Regions from separate parts of the Homo sapiens genome. Here regions 1, 2, 3, 4, 6 and 7 are each reported to be linked to region 5. Evidence: microRNA targets listed by miRTarBase, many of them from high-throughput screens and not tested one by one. Region 5 holds a microRNA gene; each other region holds the end of a gene's coding sequence.

Region 1 (3,094 bases), not on the chromosome of region 5:
GGTAGAGACAGATAAACTGTTCAGTGCCCCTTGTCCATCAGTGAGAGAGCAGCTGGAGCAGAAGGTGGAGAGGGAGGGGCAGGTGCAAGGGCTGGGGGCCCTGCCAGGCTCCTCTCTAGGAGAGGCTCTATTGAATCCCTTATGCCACCACAGCTGTGCAGGGTGCACATGAGGTCTCGCTAGCTGCTCCTGCAGGTCCCTGTCACCTCTCACATGTCCCCACCTAATCCCATGGGTCCCAGAGAACTACTTCTACATGCCAGACCTGGGCCAAGTCCCCCAAGGTCGATGTGCCATCCTACCTGACCTGCCTGGCAGACCTCAAGTATGGTGCCAGCCTGGGCCCCAGCATCACCCACTCTGCCCTGGCACCAGGCTCAAGTCGCTCAAGCCCAGTGAGCTGGGTGTTAGGATGGCAGCCAGGCTCCCTGCTCAGTCACCTCCTTCCCTAGGCACCCCACACTTTCTCCCATTTCCACTTCCTACCTATAAGATGGCACGTTAACAGCACCCCAACCTCCCCCAGCTGCTGCGGTGCTGGTCAGTGCACCCTCATCCCCACCCCAGGCCCCGGCCACTGCAGTCCAAGGCGCCGGGCAGGACGACAGCAGCAGCATCCCCTTCAGGAGGGAGCTCTCTGAGGCCACCTCAGTCTCATTTCTGGATCCCTGGCGGATTTTCTGTGGGGTTGTTAGCTGGTCAGAAATCCCTTATTTTTTTTAATAGTTGTCATTTCTTGTTCTACTTGGCTCATAAAATAGTGGTTTTCAAATTGTAGCTCCCTGGAATTCTCACCTCTACGGTAGAGGGAGCCTGGACAAGGGTGGCCCTGGGGCCCCCATTCCTAAACCAAGGAGAAAAAAGGGTCTAATAACAAAAACACTACAGGGGACAGGAACACGGAGCCGGGGGTCAAATGTGACTGAACCCCACACCCCACTCCGTGGCTTTCCTATTGCAGTGAGAGCCGTAAGCCAAGGCAGGGAACTGATGTGGGATCTCTTCAACAAGCTGGTCCTGAGACGCAAGGGTAGGAGGCAGGGCCGCTGTCTGCCATGGGCTGTGGCATCGTTAATTCTCTCTTGCCTTTTTCTTCCTGTGTTTAAGTCTCTGGGGCCTGGGGAAACCAGTGCTCCCCACAGACCTCCCTCACTCACCCTTTCCCCTCCAGCCTTTTCACCTCTGGGGCTGGTGAGGGGCCGGGAGGAGAGAGCCCGTATGTCAGACAACAAACCGTCTCTGCTAACCCCCAGCAGCCACAGGCAGAGGAAGAAGAGGACAACTGGAAATCCTAGCGGGCGCCGCCATGCCTTCCTCCCCTAAACCCAGACTCTAGCCATGGCCCGGACGTGGACACAGCCAGAATGGGATCCTCAGCCCTGCTGCCCTGGAAGGGGCGGGGATGAAACTGTCCCAGGTCTGTGTGGAGACCACCTTCGGGGAGCGGGAGGCTGGCTTGAGGCCACGCAGCTGGGGTGGGGGCTTCCGTCTGCCTGTGCTCCATCGGAGGATGGCTCCACCCAGCCCCTGCACCAGTGCGCTCCTCGATTCCCTAAAGAGGCTTCCAGAGAAAACAGCAGCACATATCAATAAAAAACTCAGCAGAAACCAACAGCACACTTTTATTTAAGGACCTATAGCTGTGCAGGATGCAAACATCTGGGCATCAGTGACTTTCCTCCTGCCCCCGTTTGTCCCTGATGGTGGCAGAAGATCCCAGCTGACCACAGCCCCTTTCTCTGGGGTCAGAGGGAGAAGACAGGCGCAGTCAGCAGGGGCAGCTGTTGCAGGTGGGAGGGATATTTTCCCACAGGAACAAAGGTCTCCGTGATGACACGGGGTCTCTATAGTCATGTTGAGAGCCTAACGGCCCTTGGCATAATTGCTGGTGTTGGGGTAGAAGGTGTCTTGGAGTTTGCTCAAGTGGTTGAGAGGGAGGGAGGTGCCATAGACTTGGAGGAACTGGCACGAAGCCAAGGATACAAATCCAGGCAGGGCTGTGGGACAGGATAGGGAGCAGGGCCTTCTACTGAAGGAGTGACTCAGGAAGGAGGAGGGGAAGGTGACAAGCCCCTGGGCAGGAGCCCTGTGGCCATGGATCATTTTAAATTGAGACCAGAGAGTGAGCAGTCCAGGGCAGCTATAACCTTGGCTAGAAAGGGCAGAGGCAGATGGGCCTGCTCCATCTCGCCTCTTAAGAAGGTGGGCAGGACGGAGATGCCACAGTGGATGCCACAGCTGCCACAGCCTCCTGCGGAGACCAGGAAGGAAGCCTGGCTCTCAGCCATGCAGGATGGAAAGAAAGATTCTATTCCAGGAGGGGAGCTGCCCTGGAACGCCCCAAGGACAGCCAGGACCCACTGTTCATTCAGGATTCCCCCATTTTCTCCTACGGGAGCTAACGCCTGTGCCTGGGTCCTGGCAGCACTCTGGACTCCACACTCTCCTCCTGGGTTTCACCTTTGTAACAGGATCCCCGCAGACCACGCCCACGACAAACACTGTCTCCAGCGGGCAGGACAAAGGAAGGGCACGGCGCCAGGCAGTGGTGTGGTTGCCCATCAGGAAGAGGCCGACTTCTCCCGGTGAAACTGGGCAGACAGAAGGCAGTGAGAAATGTGATCTCGGGGTGGGGAGGCTCTCAGAAAGAAAAAGGTAGGACTGACCTTCTGCACAGCAGCAATGGCGGGGCCAAAGGTAGCTTTGACCTCCACACGGGCTCGGATCCAGGCCGGCAGCTTGGCCAGGACAGGGGGCCGGGCATATCGCTGGTCCAGGAGCACTACGCTGGCAAAATCCTTCTGGTGCCTGATGGCCCTGCCTGCATAGGAACAGAGGCTGGGGCTCCGAGCAACACCTGCCTCCCCCCTACAGCACATTCCCACGGCGACCCCCTCCCCTTCCTCAGACTTATATAGGAAACAGGGCAGGCAACCCCTCTTTCCTGTTCTCCCTTTCTCCAGCCCCCATCTGTCCACCCAGCTGGAGGCAGCCAGGCTCACCTATGGACTGGTTGACGGCCTTCATGCACAGGTTCTCCACCAGAGCCTTCCCTGGGGGTGCCTGGCCGGGGGCTCTGGGCTGGGAGTGAAGG
Region 2 (3,087 bases), not on the chromosome of region 5:
GCATAAACCAGTTTTGTACATAACATGTAGCAGCAGTTTTTAAGTTCCCTTTAGAAAAATATGAATTCTACAAATTTATTATTGTTTCCTGTTTAATGCATGGGCTGAAATCACTAGGATCAATTTCCTTCTTGAAGAAAGAGGAGAGGAAAGAGACGAACAGAGGGTCAGAACGCATGGTGAATCTTCCAAAACTGGCATCCGACTGTTACGTAGCTTCCCCAGCGCTGCTTGGAACACAGCCCTCTGGGTTGTTTTGTTTTCACAGCCAGGTGTTTCATGTAGTGATTGAATCTCAGCATCATGTCCATTAATCAATGAGAAAAAAAAAAAAAAAAAAAAAAGAGAAAAAACTTGCACCTCAAAAAACTTTTCAGAAGATCCATATATATATATTTTTTTGTAAAAGCCCTGAGAGAAGGAGAAAGAGAATCAAACAAAATGTATAGAAACAAATTAGCTGGACATGCAAACTAAGCTATGATTCACCCAGAGTTTAAACAAATCACAAATTTCACAGTTTAATATTGGGGGGTGGGGGAAGGGCAAAAACAACAAACAAATAATACGTTTCTCCACCTCACTAATAAAATGTGGCAAGACCTTATTGACTACGAGGGTACAGATCAAGGCTAAGTAAAGCTTTAAATCAATAGTGATTATTGCGAGCGGCAGCCCCAGCTACACACGTCGCTGGGAGCTGATTACTGCTACATCTCACCGCAGCGTAGAGTTTAGTCACAGCTTCTCCCCACAATATTGCAAGTTTAGTGTGGAGAGTCGCAAAGAAAAAACACAAGAAACCCCAAATAATAATAACAACAAAAACAACAATAACAACTGTAATAATAATAATAATAATAATAAAAACCCTAAGGGATGTATGAACTGGTTTTAACTAAGTAGGCCAAGGGATCATTGGTTCTGATTTGCATTCATCTCTACAGTAAATAAAACCTCGTTTTTAAACTGGTTCATACACCCCTAATACAGTTAAAAATCATATATACCTCAACCTTTTTTCCTTTCGTATGCGAAGATATCACTTTTCATTATCTCAAGAATATCTATCTTCCTGTGAAGTCTGGGAGGTTGGATTTCAGAAACTGGTGAAGTGGCGGAGAAAAGGGGGCGTGCACGTTTCTGTGTGAACAAGTCTATGTAAAGGAGGAGCACTGGGGCCAGAAAAGGCCAGGGGAAGGAAGCTGGGGTACAGGGGTGCCTCCCCAGGGGAAGGCAAGAGGCTCCATACACTGCAGCAAGCACAGGGGTCCCCAGCAGCAGGCTGGCTGGGGACCCCTGAGGTCTTGGCTGAGGGACCAGGAGCTCAGGTGCAGTGGGGTACATTCTCCTCCCTGCAGGCGGAGACAGTGAGGGAAGTCTATTGCCTGCACAGGATGCTCATGGGTAAAAATAACCCTGCCTTTTTGCATCCAGGGGTGTGGGCTATTTAAGAAACTAGAAACAGCACATTTATCTTCAAGCACCAACCCCACATCGCAGGAAGGTAAATATAAACCTATTTCTTATCTGACATCTTGCATGTGTAGTTTTATTACCAGTAGTAGTATTTCCTTGCTTTGCAAATGACAGTAGCACAGCTGGGTAAGGCTTGGATTAGGCTTAGCAGGAAGACTGGGAATACCTCGCTCACGAGTAATGTGCCTGGTCACTGGGTCACTGCTTTGCTTTCTCCAAAGTCATCTCTGCAGTGCTCCAGGCACGGCCCTGGCTTCTTGATGCCTGTTCCCTGGATGCATGCATCCTCACTCCACCCTCTCTGAGCTGCTCCTGGACCATGCTTGGGAAGACTGCTCACGGCCCCTTCTAAATTCTGCAGTGACAGAAGAAAGGCTTGTCTCATTACAGTAGAAGAGCTACCACCCGAGGGTGCCAACCACAACCGCAGGCACACGTTAACACGGGGACCTGGGTGCGGCACAGGTCTCCCAGGACAAATATTGCCCATTTGATTCTGCTCACTGCAGAGAACAGCAAACTGATGAACTAATAATAATAATAATAATAATAATATTAATAATACATATACTGAAAGGGAAGAGGAGGCAATCAAATATATCCTATCCGTGCATGTTTTCCATAGGTTAAGACGCCAGGGGAGTAACTCTTCTCTATAGTTAAGAATGGATGTCTTGAAACTTGAACAGTGACCATGTCTAATGCTGACAGACTGGAAATGGACATGAGGCTGAAGCTAGAATCTTCCCTGGTTTTGGCCTGAAACCATATTGGAAACCTTCATCAACCACATCCTGTAATACCAAGGACCAGATGACAGCTCCACCATGAAGCACAAAGAAAAAAGGAAAATGTCTATTTAAGAAATTATCATCTTATCCATCTTTCCTCTGGTCATTTACATGAAATTCACATCATTTTCTTCCAGTTATTGGCTATGGGTACCCAAGGGTATGTTTTTTCCTTCTGTTTCCAGCTCACAGAACAAACGGTGCTATCACAGATTCACAAGAACAAGCTCACACACACCAATACAAAATAACGCTAATGCTCAAATGAAGAGGTCCTCTCCAGACAATTCATTATAATATTTGTTTTGTTTAAGAAGTCATTTTGGAAAAATACAACACCCATGATAATATGGAGGGATCCGGTAAGTAGTTAAGGCACTGGAATCGGCACGGGCTGTGGCCTCCCGCGCAGGCTGCGGTAAGGCTATGGCACTGAGCGAGCAGCCACGCTCCTGCTTGTCTCTCTCTCTCTCTCTCTCTCTCTCTCTCTCTCTCTCTCTCACTCCTCAACAGCCAAAGGGCACTGAGGAAACCCCATGAAGTATAGACGCTTTGCTCTGCTGGCTTTTGTCTGTGCTGAGGGGGACTGAGGCTGTCACTCCATCCCCACGAGCTGGGAGGCGCCATCAGCTGTGGCCAGGATTGGGTGGGCAGGCCTCTTGCTGCGCGGCTCCAGCAGGTCCTGCCCCAGGGCCGCCGGGCTCTCTGGGTTAAGGTCACCCTGGCCAGGCTCAGACGGCCACCCTGCCGTGACCTTCTCCTCCCTGTGGCTGCAGTCCTTGGTGGCACTGGCCAAGCCCTCCTTCCGGCTCCGGGT
Region 3 (3,094 bases), not on the chromosome of region 5:
GACTTTAATATTCTTGCCTTCCTCTCTAAGCTTATATTTTTCTTCTTATTCTACTTGTGGTACATATATTTTATGTGTTTTGGTTGCCAAAATAGGAATGTGAGATACGTATGTATGTATGTGTGTGTGTATATATATATATATATATATGACATCAATAAACAAATCTTAAAATTAATTTCAATGATAATCCCTAGATGTTGCTTCTCCATAGATGCCAAGTCCTTTCTTCTATTAGGTCTAAAGAGTCTAGAAAGATGCAAGTATGAGTTCCTTACAATTCCATTTTTATTCTCAGGAGGAACAATCCAACACCAATCTAGCTAAATTCCGCAAGCTCCAGCATGAGCTGGAGGAGGCCGAGGAACGGGCTGACATTGCTGAGTCCCAGGTGAACAAACTGCGGGTGAAGAGCCGGGAGGTTCACACAAAAGTCATAAGTGAAGAGTGATCATGTCCTGATGCCATGGAATGACTGAAGACAGGCACAAAATGTGACATCTTTGGTCATTTCCCTCTGTAATTATTGTGTATTCTACCCTGTTGCAAAGGAAATAAAGCATAGGGTAGTTTGCAAACAATATCCTTAGACTGGTCTTGTCTTTTCTCTTTCCTGAAGCCATGTCAAAGTTTGAATAGTCACCAGAGTTGTCAAACAATCACATTCAATTGGTGACTTTTTTGGGGGTCTACGGCAACACTTTAAGGCTGTAAAGATGTCACTTATCCAGAAAGACTGTTCTAATGAACAGAAATTTGGAAGTCTATTTTATTTCTTTCTAACCTTTCCTGATATCTGAGTACAGTAAAATCTTAGAAAGCTCCTGCTTCCCCTAACATGAACCTTTTTCAGGATAGTACTAGCTATATTCTCACATAGGGGATTCAAACTGAATTGTATCATTAATTCTCTTTGTTGAATAACTGTTATCAAGAATATAAATACAAAATATTCTTAATTAGCCCATGGATATTTACATTATCAATTCCAATGTACCATATGCCCACAGTAGGTGCACTGGGTAATGGGTTTGACACGACCTTGTTCTTCACGAAGCAAGTTTCAAAATTAAATTAAATATGACTCTTCTCCCTATGAAAACTACAGGGTGTCTATCAAATCTGGAGACATAGAGAATATTATTTTTACGTTATAATGTAGTATCCATGAGCTATTAGCTTATGTTTCCAATCTTTATGGTCTCCCAGATAATCATATAAAGAGCCAAAATAAATGACTAAAAGTGTCAAGAAAATATGATCTCAAAGTAGGTTATTCAAATCTATATTCAACACACATAATGATGGGTATGAGTTTGGTACAAAAAGTAGATATCATAGCAATCTGGACCACTCAGAGACGTTTTCCTAGAGGATCAAGATTTTTAAACTGGATGCAGCTGAGATGCATAGCCAAAAATATAACCTTCCTCGACAGAATAAAGGAAGAGCTAAATGGTAACTTCCCATCAAATAGAAAGCAAGAGTATCTTGGTCTAAATGGCACTGTGTGAAAATGATGTAAATTAGACATGGTAGTTTAACAGGTAAGTTGGATTCACACTGTCGCACTGGCCTTAGAAAGGGTGTGGAATTGCTCTTCTCGCTGCATAAGCCCCTCTTTCACTTTGTTCCTGTATCACGTGGAATTGCTTAAGTGCTTTATAACGTGGCAGTAATAAACAAAAACAATATCTTACTTCCTACTTATTGAAAAGTTTATCCAGAGCAAGACAAAAGGTTGTCTGAAGATTCCCATCAGATCCTATTGAGAGCATTATTAAAATGTTTTATCTTCCTGAAAATCATTACCCACATTTTGCAGGTGCCTAGTAAAGAAACAGACATGTAAGAAAGTAAAATTAGGTACCTGTGGTAACAAAGCAGGCTAATAGATGGCTAGGAAAGGCCCTCTCAGACGCACATCCCTGCAATACCCTTCCTGATGGCTTTAATCTACCCCAGGTAGAAGAGTGTCACAAGTGAGTACGCTGGACCGCAAGTCAGATGACCAGAGTCTAAACTGCTGTGTGATTTGTGGAGATTCTCTTCTATTTTTTGGATCTCAGTTGCTTTATTAGTAAAATGAGAAAGATGAATTAGATGATCCCTTATGGTAATAAAACTATGTGACCTTTACAACTAGTATATCCAGATATCTCCTTTCATAAGGCAAGCTATAGCCATTAAATCAATTGAGATATAAGTACAATAATACAGATGTGGGTGCAAAACCAGGTATATTAAGCAAATGTTGTCCCAGTCCTAGCCAGACAATGCTGACAGACAGAGACGTGAGGCCACAAAGACAGTAAAATAAACTTTTTTAAAAAATTAAAATAGAAAACAATATTCAGGTATTGTTTGTAAGCAAAATACTAAATATATCCCATGGACTGCTGATAGAGGAAAAATCATCGATGCTGCATATTTAGACAGAGAAATACCCTGTTTCCAATATTTTCTTATGTTGAGTTTCATAGAGGAAACAAGATTTCACAAGCAACTTGGGCACCAAAAAAAAATGAGAGAAGCAGGACATCTCTGTTTGGAAGGCAATGCAATTTCGGAGCAAGTCCGAAGTGCCGGTGGAATGATTTGACAATGAATAAGAGGCGACTGATTGAAGGAAACAAAAGAAGCTATCTTTGGCTGCTCTTCATGAAGCAAGTTTCAAAATTAAATTTCCAAGCAACTTTGAAAAAGCACAATAAATTGCAAAAAAAAAAAAAAAAAAAAAAAGGAAATCTTTTTGAGAGAAAGCAACGTTTTTATAACCCTCTGCTAAAGAGCAGAAGTTTTCCTCCCGAGTACACTATCTGTAACTGCGCAGGCAGTTGAAAAGACTTCACACAGGCGACTCTGTGAAACAGAAGAGCAGTAGGCAACAAAGTCCAGGGATTCCAGAACTTAGCTGTCTTTGAAACAACACCTTACATTCCAAAGGCCAACAACTTTAAGATTGCCAACGACTCAAATTATTTATAGGAGATTGATTCATATACTTAACCCAATATGAGAGGAAATATTTCTAATTATATCCAAACATCTTTAATATGAGGGGAATTAGGCTTGGAGACCTTCAATGCCAAAA
Region 4 (3,094 bases), not on the chromosome of region 5:
GGCTTTATTAGTTCAAAAAACATTAATTTCATGGCAGAGGTTTCATCAAGCTATTGAAGTTTAGGGTGTCGGTGATGGGGGAGGAGAAAATAAATGTCATAAACAGGATCTTGTGTTTCCTGATTGAGCCAGACCCTAAGTTTTTTGTCCATTCGTTTCAGGCATTTGATTTACTGCCTTGGGGACATCATCCTGGAATTCTTGGATCTCAGTGCCTCTGTTGAGGAGTCTGCTGCTACCACCTCTGCCTCAGATACCCCAGGCAACTCTAAGAGGATGGGTGTCTCCTCTTAGCTGGTTATTCACGCCTTCTTCCCAGGTCAGGGAAGTAGAGTTACTCGGCCACCAGAGACCAGTCAGGAAGCCCGTGCCCTCTTCAAGTAGGCTACAGCTAAGAAGGCCTAGGTTCTCGGTGGCTCACTTCTCTCCCACTTCTGCTCCATTTGTAGCAGGTGACAGGGGTCTGTGTGTCCCAGTTGTATGCACGTTTATTTCCCTGTTCCTTTTGTGATGTTGGGATTGTTGCTGGTGAGTAGATCCTGTTTCCTTTGGGAAAAGAAGCTGTGAGGTAGAGGAATGAACCCCTTTTGCTTCTCCTTTTGCCATCCTCCCTGAGATTGTTTGCCAGAATCCTGGCCCTGTGCACACATGTGCTTAATCCACCAGCACACAAGCTCTAGATAGAACAGGAAAAAAACTGTGGCCAGATTTCCTTGGAGGAGAAAACAACCTTCTCAGCTCTCTGTTCCTACCCGGAAACTAAAAATTCATTCAGGGCCATTCTCAAAAACCAGACTCCTGGGTCTAATCTAGTTTCCCAACAGTTCCAGAAGAAGAAGGAGGGAAGAAAATTTTTCAAGGAACTTCTTGCTCATGTGTTGCTGTTTCCCAACACATCAGCCTTATGGAAGATGTCATGAGGCTGCTTGCCTGGGAGGCTACACTTTCCTTTCCAGAAGACTTCAAAGCTGACTGCCAAAGCTTCTGGTAAATCCACCCCACCCTTCACACCCTTTCCTGAAAGGCATTTATACCACCCATTTTATTTATTGGCTTTGCTCCCAACCCCCTGCCCTAGAGCAATTGAGTTTTTGAATTTTTGACCCTCTCTCTGTCTTCAGCAAAACTGCATGACAAGCTGCATATTCAGCCTCAGTTTTTCCAAGGAGAATGGAAAGCACTTGCCTCCTGTCTTAAGAATGCACAAAGAGTAGGACTAGCAAGGCTGGGGGATGAAATCTCCCTTCCTAAGTCTTTGACAGAGAACTTTTATTATTCTGAACAGATAAGATTAGCAAACTTACAAGGAATAGCTTCTTATTTCCCATTCCTTACGGTTATAATCAGTCCTTTAACAACACCAGCATGAAGGCAAAGGTGTTTTGTCAGACTGCAACATCTATTAGAAAGGCAAGGCAACTGGGAATTGCTGGAGAAGGATAAATCAGGAGGAATTGCTGGTAGAAAAGGCTGCAGACAGTCACAGGGAAGTGCTGTATATTAAATGCATGTGAATAGCTGGCAAAAAGATGTCAAGGATGTCACTGGGAGCCCTTTGGCTTCACACTCGCCTGTTAGCGCCTTGCTTTCGCTGAATTACCAGAGCCTACCACTCGGAGGAAGGTCTTGGAGTTAGACTGATGAGAAGGCAATGGGGTGTCAAAAACAAGTGTCAAAGTTCTCTTAGATTCTGAAGTCGGTGATGAGCACACAATTAAAGTGGTTTGTGGAAGAAAGTTGTAAAATCTTTTTACTTTTTTGCCCCTCTGGAGGCTTTTAACCCTAAATTGTGTCTGATGTATTCGGGAGGCTTAGGTGTGCAATTCTTGCCCAAAGGCAAGGAGATGAATGAGATGTCTCATGGCCTCTTCTAGCCTTAAAAGTTGACCATTACAGTGACTTTATGGCTCCAAAGTTCTTGAAGCATCTCCAGCCCTAGACTTTGACAAGAAAAGGTAGCTCAGCATCTCTACTTTCCGTGAGTACCTGCAGGAGTCCAGCCAATGTATTAGAGCTGATCATTAAGCTCCTTCAGTGAGGGCTAAGATCCTATTCTCGATGAGCATAGGGGGACAGCCTTGTTTTATGCCACTTTTCTCTCCCCATACCTACCTTCCCCTCATGTGTACTTAGCCACCTGTGTTGCTTTGAATCTGCTGCCAGTTCTGGCTCAAATGTGGCACAAAATCAGTACATCAGACACACCATGAAATCCCTGTGGCTATAAATTCTAAGGAATCTTTTGACACTTCCAGCCCAAAGAACTTATTTTTATTTCGTATTATATAAGAGTCCCCACCTCTACTCCACGTACCCCAAAAAGATAAGCTGTCCTCAGATCCTCCTTCTACCCAGGAGGGAAATAATGGATATTGCCAAGGGAACAATCAGAACTCATCTGGCTTTGAAAACGACCTGCCAAGTTTGGCTAGCAGGTTCAGACAACAAGAGAGTAACAATTGGTAGAGAGCCACAGGTAGAAAAGATACTCCCAGCTGACAGGGTGATAAAAGGCAGGGAAGAATTGGGCCTGTGCTGATCCAGGAAGGTTTTATTGTTTGCTTGTTTTTTGTATTTACTCGTGACTAAATTTTATTCATTTAAGTCAGAATTTTGATATTTGAAATAAGACTACTTTCCCTTTTCTTACTATCTATAAAAAAGACGAGGCAGGGATGCTGTGTTCTTTCTGTCAAATTCTAAATGTGATCTTTGCCATTGCTTATTTGAATTCAAGAAAGCTATACTTTTTCATCACATATAACTCACAGTTTCATTTTTGCATTGTTGGATTAGACTTAATAAAACCTAAATGGAAAATAAATTCCTAAATCTGAGCCTAGGAGCATGTATAAATTTTATTTTTATTATTATTATACATTAAGTTCTAGGGAACATGTGCACAACATGCAGGTTTGTTGCATATGTATACATGTGCCGTGTTGGTGTGCTGCACCCGTTAACTCGTCATTTACATTAGGTATATCTCCTGATGCTATCCCTTCCCCCTCCCCCGACCTCACAACAGGCCCCAGTGTGTGATGTTCACCTTCCTGTGTCCAAGTGTTCTCATTGTTCAATTCCCACCTATGAG
Region 5 (3,000 bases):
CACCCTCCATCTCCCGGGTTCAAACGATTCTCCTGCCTCAGCCTCCCAAGTGGCTGGGACTACAGGCGTGCACCACTGCGCCCAGCTAATTTTTGTTTTTGTTTTGTTTTTGAGACAGAGTTTCACTCTTGTTGCCCAGGCTGGCGTCAATGGCGCGATCTCGGCTCACCGCAACCTCTGCCTCCCGGGTTCAAGCAATTCTGCCTCAGCCTCCCGAGTAGCTGGGATTACAGGCATGCGCCACCACGCCTGGCTAATTTTGTATTTTTAGTAGAGATGGGGTTTCTCCATGTTGGCTGGTCTCCAACTTCCGACCTCAGATGATCTGCCTGCCTCAGCCTCCCAAAGTGCTGGGATTACAGGCATGAGCCACCGTGCCCGGCCATGCCTGGCTAATTTTTGTATTTTTAGTAGAGGCAGGGTTTCACCGTGTTGGTCAGGCTGGTCTTGAACTCCTGACCTCAGGTGATCTTCCCGCTTCGGCCTCCCAAAGTGCTGGGATTACAGGCGTGGGCCACCTTGCCCGGCCTCTCCTCTTGTTCTAAAGACACCAGTCCTGTTGGATTGGGGCCCACCCTACTGCAGTGTGATCTCATCTTAATATGATTTCATCTGCAAAGGTTCTATCTACAAAGACCCTGTTTCCAAAAACAATCCTATTCGTGGGTACTGGGGATCAGCCTTTGAACATCTCTTTTTGCAGGGGACACGGGCAACCCATAACAATTTTGTACCTGGAATGTGCCTTAATATACCTGTGTGTTCTCAACACCAGCATATAAGCCTGTTGGGAGGGGCCTCTGCACACTGTCGGGAGGGGCCGTCCCACCTCGGCTCGTTTCCCATTGAGGGAAGGAGGCTTGGTCTTAGCACGGGGTCTAAGGCCCGGGCTTTCCTCCCAGCTACCCGGAGAACGGCGTGGTCCAGATGAACTCCAGGGACGTCCGAGCGCGCGCCCGCACCATCATCAAGTGGCAGGACCTGGAGGTGGGCCAGGTGGTCATGCTCAACTACAACCCCGACAACCCCAAGGAGCGGGGCTTCTGGTACGACGCGGAGATCTCCAGGAAGCGCGAGACCAGGACGGCGCGGGAACTCTACGCCAACGTGGTGCTGGGGTGAGCCTCGCGTCCTGGGGCGAGCCCTTCCTCTCTCCTTTCCTCCCCTCCCGGGGCCCCCGGACTGGCTTTGAAGCCGTCCAGCCAGCGCTGTGTGTGCGAGGCCCTTAGCCTCCGGCCTGGCCTTCCTGCCTCCCCTCTGGGGTCTGTTCCTGCTCACTGCTGAGCATCTTTCTAAGACCGACCACCTTGTGCCCCTGAGTGCCTCTGCCCAGGGAACTGTCTCTGACCCCCAGGCCCTGACAGGCAGAGTTGTCAAACTTCCTTTTTCTCATGGTGTTTTTTTTATCGCTCTGTTGCCCAGGCTGGAGTGCAGTGGTTCGATCTCGGTTCACTGCAAGCTCTGCCTCCTGGGTTCATGCCATTCTCCTGCCTCAGCCTCCCGAGTAGCTGGGACTACAGGCGTCTACCACCACACCTGGCTAATTTTTTTGTATTTTTAGTAGAGACGGGGTTTCACCGTTAACCAGGATGGTCTCGATCTCCTGACCTCGTGATCTGCCTGCCTCGGCCTCCCAAAGTGCTGGGATTGCAGGCAGTGAGCCACCGTGCCTGGCCTCAAGCTTTCTTTTTCTCTCTTGTTTGTTTCAAATTTGGTGAATAGGTCCCATTCACAGGGTCAAAATAGAAAGCACCCAAGACCACACATGAAGGTTCTCCCTCCTCTGCCTGGTCACCCAGTTCCCCTTTTTGGCGACATCACTGTTACCAACTTTCCAGGGACATTCTGTTCATAAACATACACGCCAAACCACACCGCTTAGGAGTTGGCAAACTGCAGTCCACAGGCCTGCTGTGGTCCGCTGCCGGCTTTGACTAATAGTTTTATTGGGACGTGGTCACACCCATTTTTATCTTATTACCTGTGGTTGCTTTTGTGTTATAAGAGCAGAGTTGTGTAGTTGCAACAGAGACTATGCGGCCTACAAAGCTGAAAATCCTTCCTATTTGGCCATTTGCAGAATCATTTTGCAAAGCCTGTTCTTTCTCCCTTGCCTCTTTGTGTGTGTGTGTGCGTGTGTGTGTGTGTGTGTGTGTGTGATAAAATGTATGTAACAGAAAATTTACCTTTTTTTTTTTTTTAAAAGACAGAGTCTCCCTCTGTCGCCCAGGCTGGGGTATAGTGGCATGATCTTGGCTCACTGCAGCCTCCGCCTTCCAGGTTCAGGTGATTCTCCTGCCTCAGCCTCCCAAGTAGTTGGGATTACAGGCGCCCGCCACCACGTCTGGCTAATTTTTGTATATATATATATATTTAGTAGAGTCTGGGTTTCACCATGTTGGCCAGGCTGGTCTCGAACTCCTGACCTCAAGTGATTCGCCCGCCTCAGCCTCCCACAGTGCTGGGATTACAGGCATGAGCCACTGCGCCCGGCCAAAAATTTACCATTGGAACCATGTTTAAGCGCACAGTTCGGTGGCATTAAACGCATTTACGTTGTTACGCAACCATCTCCAGCACTTTGTCCTCTTCCCAAACTGAAACTCTGACTCCATGAAACACTCACTCCCTAGCCCCTGACACCTCTGCATCCTACTTTCCATCTCTGTGAATCTGACAACTCGGGGGACCTCCTAGGAATGGGATCACACAGGATTTGTCCTTTGCATCTGTTCACTGACGTCACTGAGTGTGATGTCCTTGAGGTGCATCAGGCTGTAGCCTGGTCGGAATTTCCCTCCTTTTTGTGGCCGAGTGATAGTACGTGACGTGTTGTCTATAAACACGAGCATCTTGGCAACGGCGTTCCAAGTACAGGTACAGCAAGCACGCAGAGGTCCTGGGCTGGGACATTTATGGTGCATCTGTGGCCCGGTAGGGAGGTCAGTGAGCTGCGGGTGATGGAGGGGAGTGGCTGGGGCTGTGGGAGCCTCCTCACTG
Region 6 (3,094 bases), not on the chromosome of region 5:
CCCAGGGCAGGGGGTGGGCAGTAGGGACAGTAGGACCATAGACCCTCTTCTTTGTCAACTCCTGTCCTGAGTCACCCTCTCCCTGGTGTGGGAGGCACTAAGAATTCCTGGGGTTTCCTTTTCTTGCACGTGTGTCTGCAGCTAAGCGGTACATCGAGACGGACCCAGCCAATCGGGATCGGCGGACGCCCATCACCGTGGTGAAGCAAGGCTTTGAGCCTCCCTCCTTTGTGGGCTGGTTCCTTGGCTGGGATGATGATTACTGGTCTGTGGACCCCTTGGACAGGGCCATGGCTGAGCTGGCTGCCTGAGGAGGGGCAGGGCCCACCCATGTCACCGGTCAGTGCCTTTTGGAACTGTCCTTCCCTCAAAGAGGCCTTAGAGCGAGCAGAGCAGCTCTGCTATGAGTGTGTGTGTGTGTGTGTGTTGTTTCTTTTTTTTTTTTTTACAGTATCCAAAAATAGCCCTGCAAAAATTCAGAGTCCTTGCAAAATTGTCTAAAATGTCAGTGTTTGGGAAATTAAATCCAATAAAAACATTTTGAAGTGTGTACTCTAGTGTGGCTCGTTTCCTTGTGCCCATCTGACAGTGAGAGCCGGCGTCTTCTCTGCCTGTGTCCCTGGTAATTCTGAGAATGGCCAGAGAGGTGCCTAGCATTTGCCTGTAAACTAGTAGAAAGGCTACATCCACCCTGTGCGTGAATCCTGGTGCCCTGAGAGGCGATGCCACAGTGAGTTGAGAGGTGTGTAGATTGTCCTGGGGGATACCTATGCTAAAGGAAATAAGGAGGGGCCGGGTACGGTGGCTCACACATGTAATCCCGACACTTTGGGAGACCGAGGCAGGCAGATCACCTGAGATCAGGAGTTCGAGACCAGCCTGGCCAACATGGTGAAAGCCTGCCTCTACTAAAAATAAAAAATTAGCCAGGCGTGGTGGCACATGCCTGTAATCCCACCTACTCGGGAGGCTGAGACAGGAGAATCTCTTGAACCCAGGAGGCGGATGTTGCAGTGAGCTGAGATTGCACCATTGCACTCCAGCCTGGGTGACAGAGCGAGATTCTGTCTCAAAAGAAAGGAAATAGGTGGGGAACCAAGGAAGACTGGGAGAGCCATCAGACCCTCGACGCAAGTCTGACCCTAGGTGGAGAAAAAAGGGAGAGAAGGTTGTGCGGAAGTGTCTTAGTGGTCATTTATTTAATCCAGGAAGATTTGGCAAAGCTTGTCGGCAGTCCCAAAGCCAAATTCAGTGTTCTTTTTAAATTTAATGGTATAGTCCCATTTTTGTTGTTTTTTATTGTGGCAAACTGTACGTAACACAGTATTTATTTTAACCACTTGTATGTATTTCAGTAACATTGCATATACAGTGTTATGTAGCCATCACCACTCTCTGTACCCAAAACTTTTTGATAATCCCCAATATAAATGCTCTGCCCATTAAATACCAATTCCCCATTCTTCCCTATTCGCCAGCCCCTGGTAACCTGTATTTTACTTTCAGTCTCAGAATTTGACTATTCCAGGGACCTCATATAAGTGGAATCATACAACATTTGTCCTCTGTGTGTGGCTTATTTCACTTAGCAGAATGTTTTCAAGACTCATCTGTGTTGTAGCATATATCAACTTTTCACTCCTTTTTGTGGCTGAGTAATATTCTACTGCATGTCTATACCACATCTGGTTTATTCAGCCATCAATGGACTCTTTGTTATTTGTGCCTTTTGGCTATTGTGCATAAGGCTGCTATGAACATGAGCATCTGTTCAATTCAAAGTGTTCTTGAGCCAGAGTCAAAGTCAGCCAGCAAAGGAATTGTGTGTCTCTTGTAAGCAGGCGTGCCTTATCTGCCCCCTGCACTCAGTCTTTGGGAGGCCTGGCCTTGGGACACATGTGGGATGAAGTTCAAAGCCAGCAGTCGGAGCCCTTATCAATTATATGCCCTGCAGTAGAAAGCGGGCAGGGTGCATCCTCATAGCTGCCACATCCTGTAGCAGCTGCTTGGACCTTCCCTGCTGCCTCTGTTTCCCACAGATTCATTCTGCTGCCCCAAAGCTATGTGGAGAAATAACTGCAGCAGCTGCCAGCACAAGAGCTGCCCCCGGATGCTCTCAAAGTTTGCGGTCTTCAGGGTATGGGAAAGGGACTCTTCTGTGCCTTCTTGGTCCCCTGGGTCCTGACTCTCCACTCATGCTCAGCATGTCACACAGTCCCTCTTGGATATTTCTATGTTGTTTCATAATCTTTTCTCCTGGGAGACTAAACCAGTCCAAGAAACCTGCTGGAGGACATTCCCCAGTCCTCCCGCTCTGTCCTTTTGGTCTCTTCTCACCTTGTTTTCCCCCCGTCTTGTTCTGTGTCACCTCCCACCACCACTCCATCCCCATTGAGTTATGATGTGAAAGCTCGCAAGCATATGACTGTAAAAGAACAGAAACCAGCATGAGGGCTTAAATGATGGGCAGGCTGTGTGTTTGTGTGTGTGTGTGTGTGTGTGTGTGTGTGTGTGTGTGTGTGTGTGTTTACACTGTTGTCTCCAAAGCTGGCTGATCACCCAAATTGCCCAGGGAACTTTTTAAAAGCATGGATTCCCCAAGGGCCATTCCTCCAGAGATTCTGATTCATCGCAGAAGTGTCGAGGGTAGTGGAGAAGAAATTTTCTGGATGAAACGTGGAGGGAAGATGAAGTCACTTTCAGGCAGAGGGTGCAGCTAGTACAGGCAGGGGGCTGTGAGGGGAACAGCGTGCTCAGGGACAGACAGCAGCCTGGAGTGGCAGGCCTCTGAGCTGAGAAGCAGGCTGGGGCTTTGAATGCCATACCAAGGGTTTGGACTTGATCCCATAACGCTTGCCTTGCCTACCCCCAAAGGTTTGCTTTCATGGTCAAAGCAATCAACTTGACAAAGTCCTGGTACAGAAGTGGCATTTACCACCCAAAGCTTCTAGGGCTTTCACGAGAGGCAGGTAGAGGCCTGTCTAGACAGAGCTAGCTTACTTCCTAGAAATTAGTGGGAGGTAAAATTTCAGGTAGACCTGCCCATTAATTCTTCATTTCAGTTTATACCAGCATTCAAGGGTATGGCTGTGGC
Region 7 (3,094 bases), not on the chromosome of region 5:
TCTCTTCCATGCCTTGTCTAGCTTGCTACTCAGGATGTGCTATGTTTGCATCTCTTCGGGCCCCTCCTCTGACTCCTCTGTTTTTCAGTGGGTTTCTTTCTGGCTTACTTTTTTCAAGAATGTCCTGGCCGGGTGCGGTTGCTCACGCCTGTAATCCCAGCATTCTGGGAGGCCGAGGCGGGCGGATCACGAGGGCAGGAGATCGAGACCATCCTGGATAACACGGTAAAACCCCGTCTCTACTAAAAATACAGAAAAACATTAGCCGGGTGTGGTAGCGGGCACCTGTAGTCCCAGCTACTCTGGAGGCTGAGGCAGGACAATGGCGTGAACCTGGGAGCCGGAGCTTGCAGTGAGCCGAGATGGCGCCACTGCACTCCAGCCTGGGCGACAGAGCGAGACTCCGTCTCAAAAATAAATAAATAAATAAATAAAAATAATAATAATAATAAAAAGAATGTCCTTCCGCCTTTTGGCAACACTGAGCTCCCCCAGGCTCATTCACATTTGAACCTGAACTACAAGCCAAGAAGCTTGAGAATTATGGTAATTGAATGCAAGCCCTGAGAAAAGCTGTTACAGGAAGTGAGTGAAGACTTCCCAGGCAGCTGTCAATTATTTCAATGAAAGGAGAAGTAGCCCTGCCAGGAAGGTCAGTTGAGTCAGGAGAACACAGGGCAAATCAAAAGCCAAAGTCTCGCTCTGTCGCCCAGGCTGGAGTGTAGTGGCGCCATCTTGGCTCACTGCAACCTCCGCCTTCCGGGTTCAAGCAATTCTCTGCCACAGCCTCCTGAGTAGCTAGGATTCCAGACACCTGCCACCACCAAACCAAGGGGTGTCACCATCTTGGCAAGGCTGGTCTTGAACTCCTGACCTCGTGATCCACCCGCCTCAGCCTCCCAGAGTGCTGGGATTACAGGCGTGAGCCACAGCACCCAGCTGGTCACTGCGTTTTAGAGACATTAAGCAATTTGCCTGAGGTCATCCAGCTGGTGAACAGGGAAACCAGGACTCGAATCCTAGGTGCCCAGTGGTAAATCGGCAGAATATCCAGGCTGACCCCATTTGTGTGACACAGAGAGGATGACAAAGAGGATACTGAAGTTCCTTAGAGATTCCTGGAGACTGGCCTTAGCAAGTAGGTGGTGTCAGTGGGGCAGGGGACCACAGCCTGGGCCTGGAGTCAGCTCTGCCCGGATGCGAGTGGTGACTCGGGGACTAAAGCTCCCTGGGCCTCATCTGTGGACTTGGGATAATAATGGCAACAAACGTGAGACCCAACGTTTATTGAGGGCTTACTGTACAGATTCACTATCTCAATTTTCCTCATCGCTAAATTGGGAATAACAGCAAGAATAGCAGTGAGAATAATAAATGATAGATACCATTTATTGAGCATTTATGTTATAAAAATCTCTGTTCTGAGAGATATACACACCTTAGTGTTCCTCATCTGTAGCCTGGGAATAATAATAATAAATCATATGAACCACTTACTGATCACTTAATGGACAGAAGCCTCTGATCTAAGTGAGTCACACATCTCAGTTCCCATTCTCTAGGGACTGGGAATAGTGAATCATCCCAACAATATGTGAGAGCTGGCATTCACTGAATACTGACTGTGTGCCAGGTCCTCTTCTACACACATTAGATAGTGTCCAACTTGACTGGTCCTTGGCAACTCTCCAGTGTCGTCTCCCATCCCACTCTACCTCATTCCACTCTACCACGCCGGCCTTCTCCAGACGTCTCCTCAAACACAGCGAAGTGCAGCCTCACCTCCCGCCTTGGCATGAGGCATGTCTTCTGCCAGGCCCACCTTTCCCCAGACACCCACAGGGCTCACCCCCTCGCTTCTCTACCTCGCTTCTCCGCTCAGATACCACTTCCTAGGTGAGGCCGTCGCTGACCGCGCTGTTTAAAATCCAGTGCTTAGAACAGTGCCTGGTACCCAGCAGGCAATCGGCAAATGCCTGCTTAGTCAGTACATGCTCAGTCAATGGCCGCAGCCTGCTGCTGGGTGCCTTTGGATTTGGGTCCCAAATGCCGGCCTCCAGAGTGGCGGACACATTTAACAGATCTGAGGTTGCCTGGGGGATGTGACCCCAGAGAAGGACCAGTAGGGCGAAGGCCCCGAGGGGACACGTGTTTTGGAATGTTTGAGACGGGTGGAGAGGCAGCCTTGGCTAGAACCCAATTTGTGAGGGGAGCTCAGATGGGCGGGCATGTCCCAGAGCCAGCGCGAGTCTGCGGGTCTTGCAGAGACTCTGGGTTTCCTGAGACCACCGGAGACGCACAGGCCCCGAGGACCGGAATGGGTTAACACCTGCCCTCCGGCCCCTGTTGACAACATAGATGGTTTGGGAACTCGAGATGAGGCCGTGGGGCGGGGGATACTGACACCCACTTACTCTCTCTGAGTTCAGGAGCATTTACCCAGCCTCTGTACGGCGCCCGGGGCTCGACTGGTGGGAGGGGTCCGGCAGAGGCCCCGCCTCGAGATCCCAGCACGCCCCGCCCCGCTCCACGGTGTAGCACAGACTCCGCGGAGAACGCGAGCATGGTCGGAAATCATCGCCTTTATTTCTTGGCGGGTCTCGAGGGAAGGTCGGGAACGGGCGGGTCCTGCTGGCCTAGAGGGCGTCAGGGGCAGCCACCGGCGGCTCGGGATCCTCCTCGTCGCGAGCGCGGGGGAGCTCAGGTCCGGCCTGCCGGGGGCTGGGTGAGGCTGCGGACCAGGTTCCTACGCTCCTCGCGTCCGCCCGCGTCTGCCCTAGGCCTCCACCGCGGCTTCCTCTGTCCCCGGGGCCGCCCTGCTCCCCACAGACCCCACTCTCGGGGGCCGCTCCCAGGACCCCCGCCCGCTCTCTCCTGACTCGGTCCCTGCCCGCCCCGCCTCCCTTCCTCGGGCTCCCTACCTCTCCCTCGCCGGCCCCGACCTCGGGGGCGCTCCGGACCTGCTCCCCGAATATCTCCAGCTCCGCCTTCAGCCTGCGGAGAAGGGGCCGAGGAGACAGGAGGAAGAGAGCGAGAGTCCAGGGGACGAGGAGGAAGCCACCGAGACGCGGAGACCCGACGACGCCGAGGGAGG

Evidence for each region. The annotated mature microRNA hsa-miR-4747-5p reads AGGGAAGGAGGCUUGGUCUUAG and lies in region 5 at 849-870, shown strand. An mRNA with a match to its seed (bases 2 to 7 or 8) in the 3' UTR can be bound and repressed. Matches are read on the target gene's strand: a 7mer-m8 pairs with bases 2 to 8, a 7mer-A1 pairs with bases 2 to 7 and ends in A, and an 8mer does both.
Region 1: the mRNA of DDX11 is a reported target of hsa-miR-4747-5p. Seed matches in the 3' UTR shown: 7mer-m8 at 2,057-2,063.
Region 2: the mRNA of RREB1 is a reported target of hsa-miR-4747-5p. Seed matches in the 3' UTR shown: 7mer-A1 at 1,804-1,810, 7mer-m8 at 1,231-1,237, 7mer-m8 at 1,196-1,202 and 7mer-m8 at 539-545.
Region 3: the mRNA of MYH2 is a reported target of hsa-miR-4747-5p. The part of its 3' UTR that is shown has no 7-base or 8-base seed match.
Region 4: the mRNA of SNX19 is a reported target of hsa-miR-4747-5p. Seed matches in the 3' UTR shown: 7mer-A1 at 312-318, 7mer-m8 at 2,112-2,118 and 7mer-m8 at 3,001-3,007.
Region 6: miRTarBase lists GSN as a target of hsa-miR-4747-5p. Seed matches in the 3' UTR shown: 7mer-m8 at 361-367.
Region 7: miRTarBase lists SYCE1L as a target of hsa-miR-4747-5p. Seed matches in the 3' UTR shown: 7mer-m8 at 2,605-2,611.

The regions. Positions count from the first base shown.
Region 1 is chr12:31,103,304-31,106,397 of GRCh38, reverse strand. It overlaps DDX11 (DEAD/H-box helicase 11), which reads right to left. Exons shown (of 27, transcript NM_030653.4): 25 at 3,003-3,081; 26 at 2,667-2,821; 27 at 1,599-2,591. The coding sequence ends at 2,562. Among named protein-coding and RNA genes, the nearest start is that of DDX11, 31 kb to the right of the region's middle. RefSeq lists an enhancer at 1,864-2,363.
Region 2 is chr6:7,248,747-7,251,833 of GRCh38, reverse strand. It overlaps RREB1 (ras responsive element binding protein 1), which reads right to left. Exons shown (of 13, transcript NM_001003699.4): 13 at 1-3,087. The coding sequence ends at 2,866. Among named protein-coding and RNA genes, the nearest start is that of SSR1, 63 kb to the left of the region's middle.
Region 3 is chr17:10,518,637-10,521,730 of GRCh38, reverse strand. It overlaps MYH2 (myosin heavy chain 2), which reads left to right. Exons shown (of 40, transcript NM_017534.6): 40 at 299-583. The coding sequence ends at 451. All of the region lies in intron 2 of MYHAS (myosin heavy chain gene cluster antisense RNA), which reads right to left. Among named protein-coding and RNA genes, the nearest start is that of MYH1, 1.6 kb to the right of the region's middle.
Region 4 is chr11:130,875,622-130,878,715 of GRCh38, reverse strand. SNX19 (sorting nexin 19) reads left to right here. Exons shown (of 11, transcript NM_014758.3): 11 at 162-3,094. The coding sequence ends at 294. Among named protein-coding and RNA genes, the nearest start is that of LINC02551, 15 kb to the right of the region's middle.
Region 5 is chr19:4,931,839-4,934,838 of GRCh38, forward strand. It overlaps MIR4747 (microRNA 4747), which reads left to right and starts at 849; the gene lies at 849-902. It overlaps UHRF1 (ubiquitin like with PHD and ring finger domains 1), which reads left to right. Exons shown (of 17, transcript NM_001048201.3): 5 at 903-1,118.
Region 6 is chr9:121,332,293-121,335,386 of GRCh38, forward strand. It overlaps GSN (gelsolin), which reads left to right. Exons shown (of 18, transcript NM_198252.3): 18 at 142-550. The coding sequence ends at 311. Among named protein-coding and RNA genes, the nearest start is that of STOM, 36 kb to the right of the region's middle.
Region 7 is chr16:77,212,474-77,215,567 of GRCh38, reverse strand. It overlaps SYCE1L (synaptonemal complex central element protein 1 like), which reads right to left. Exons shown (of 11, transcript NM_001129979.3): 10 at 2,922-2,994; 11 at 2,353-2,711. The coding sequence ends at 2,637. Among named protein-coding and RNA genes, the nearest start is that of SYCE1L, 15 kb to the right of the region's middle. RefSeq lists silencers at 2,408-2,457, 2,488-2,577, 2,688-3,017, 3,078-3,094 and an enhancer at 2,357-3,094.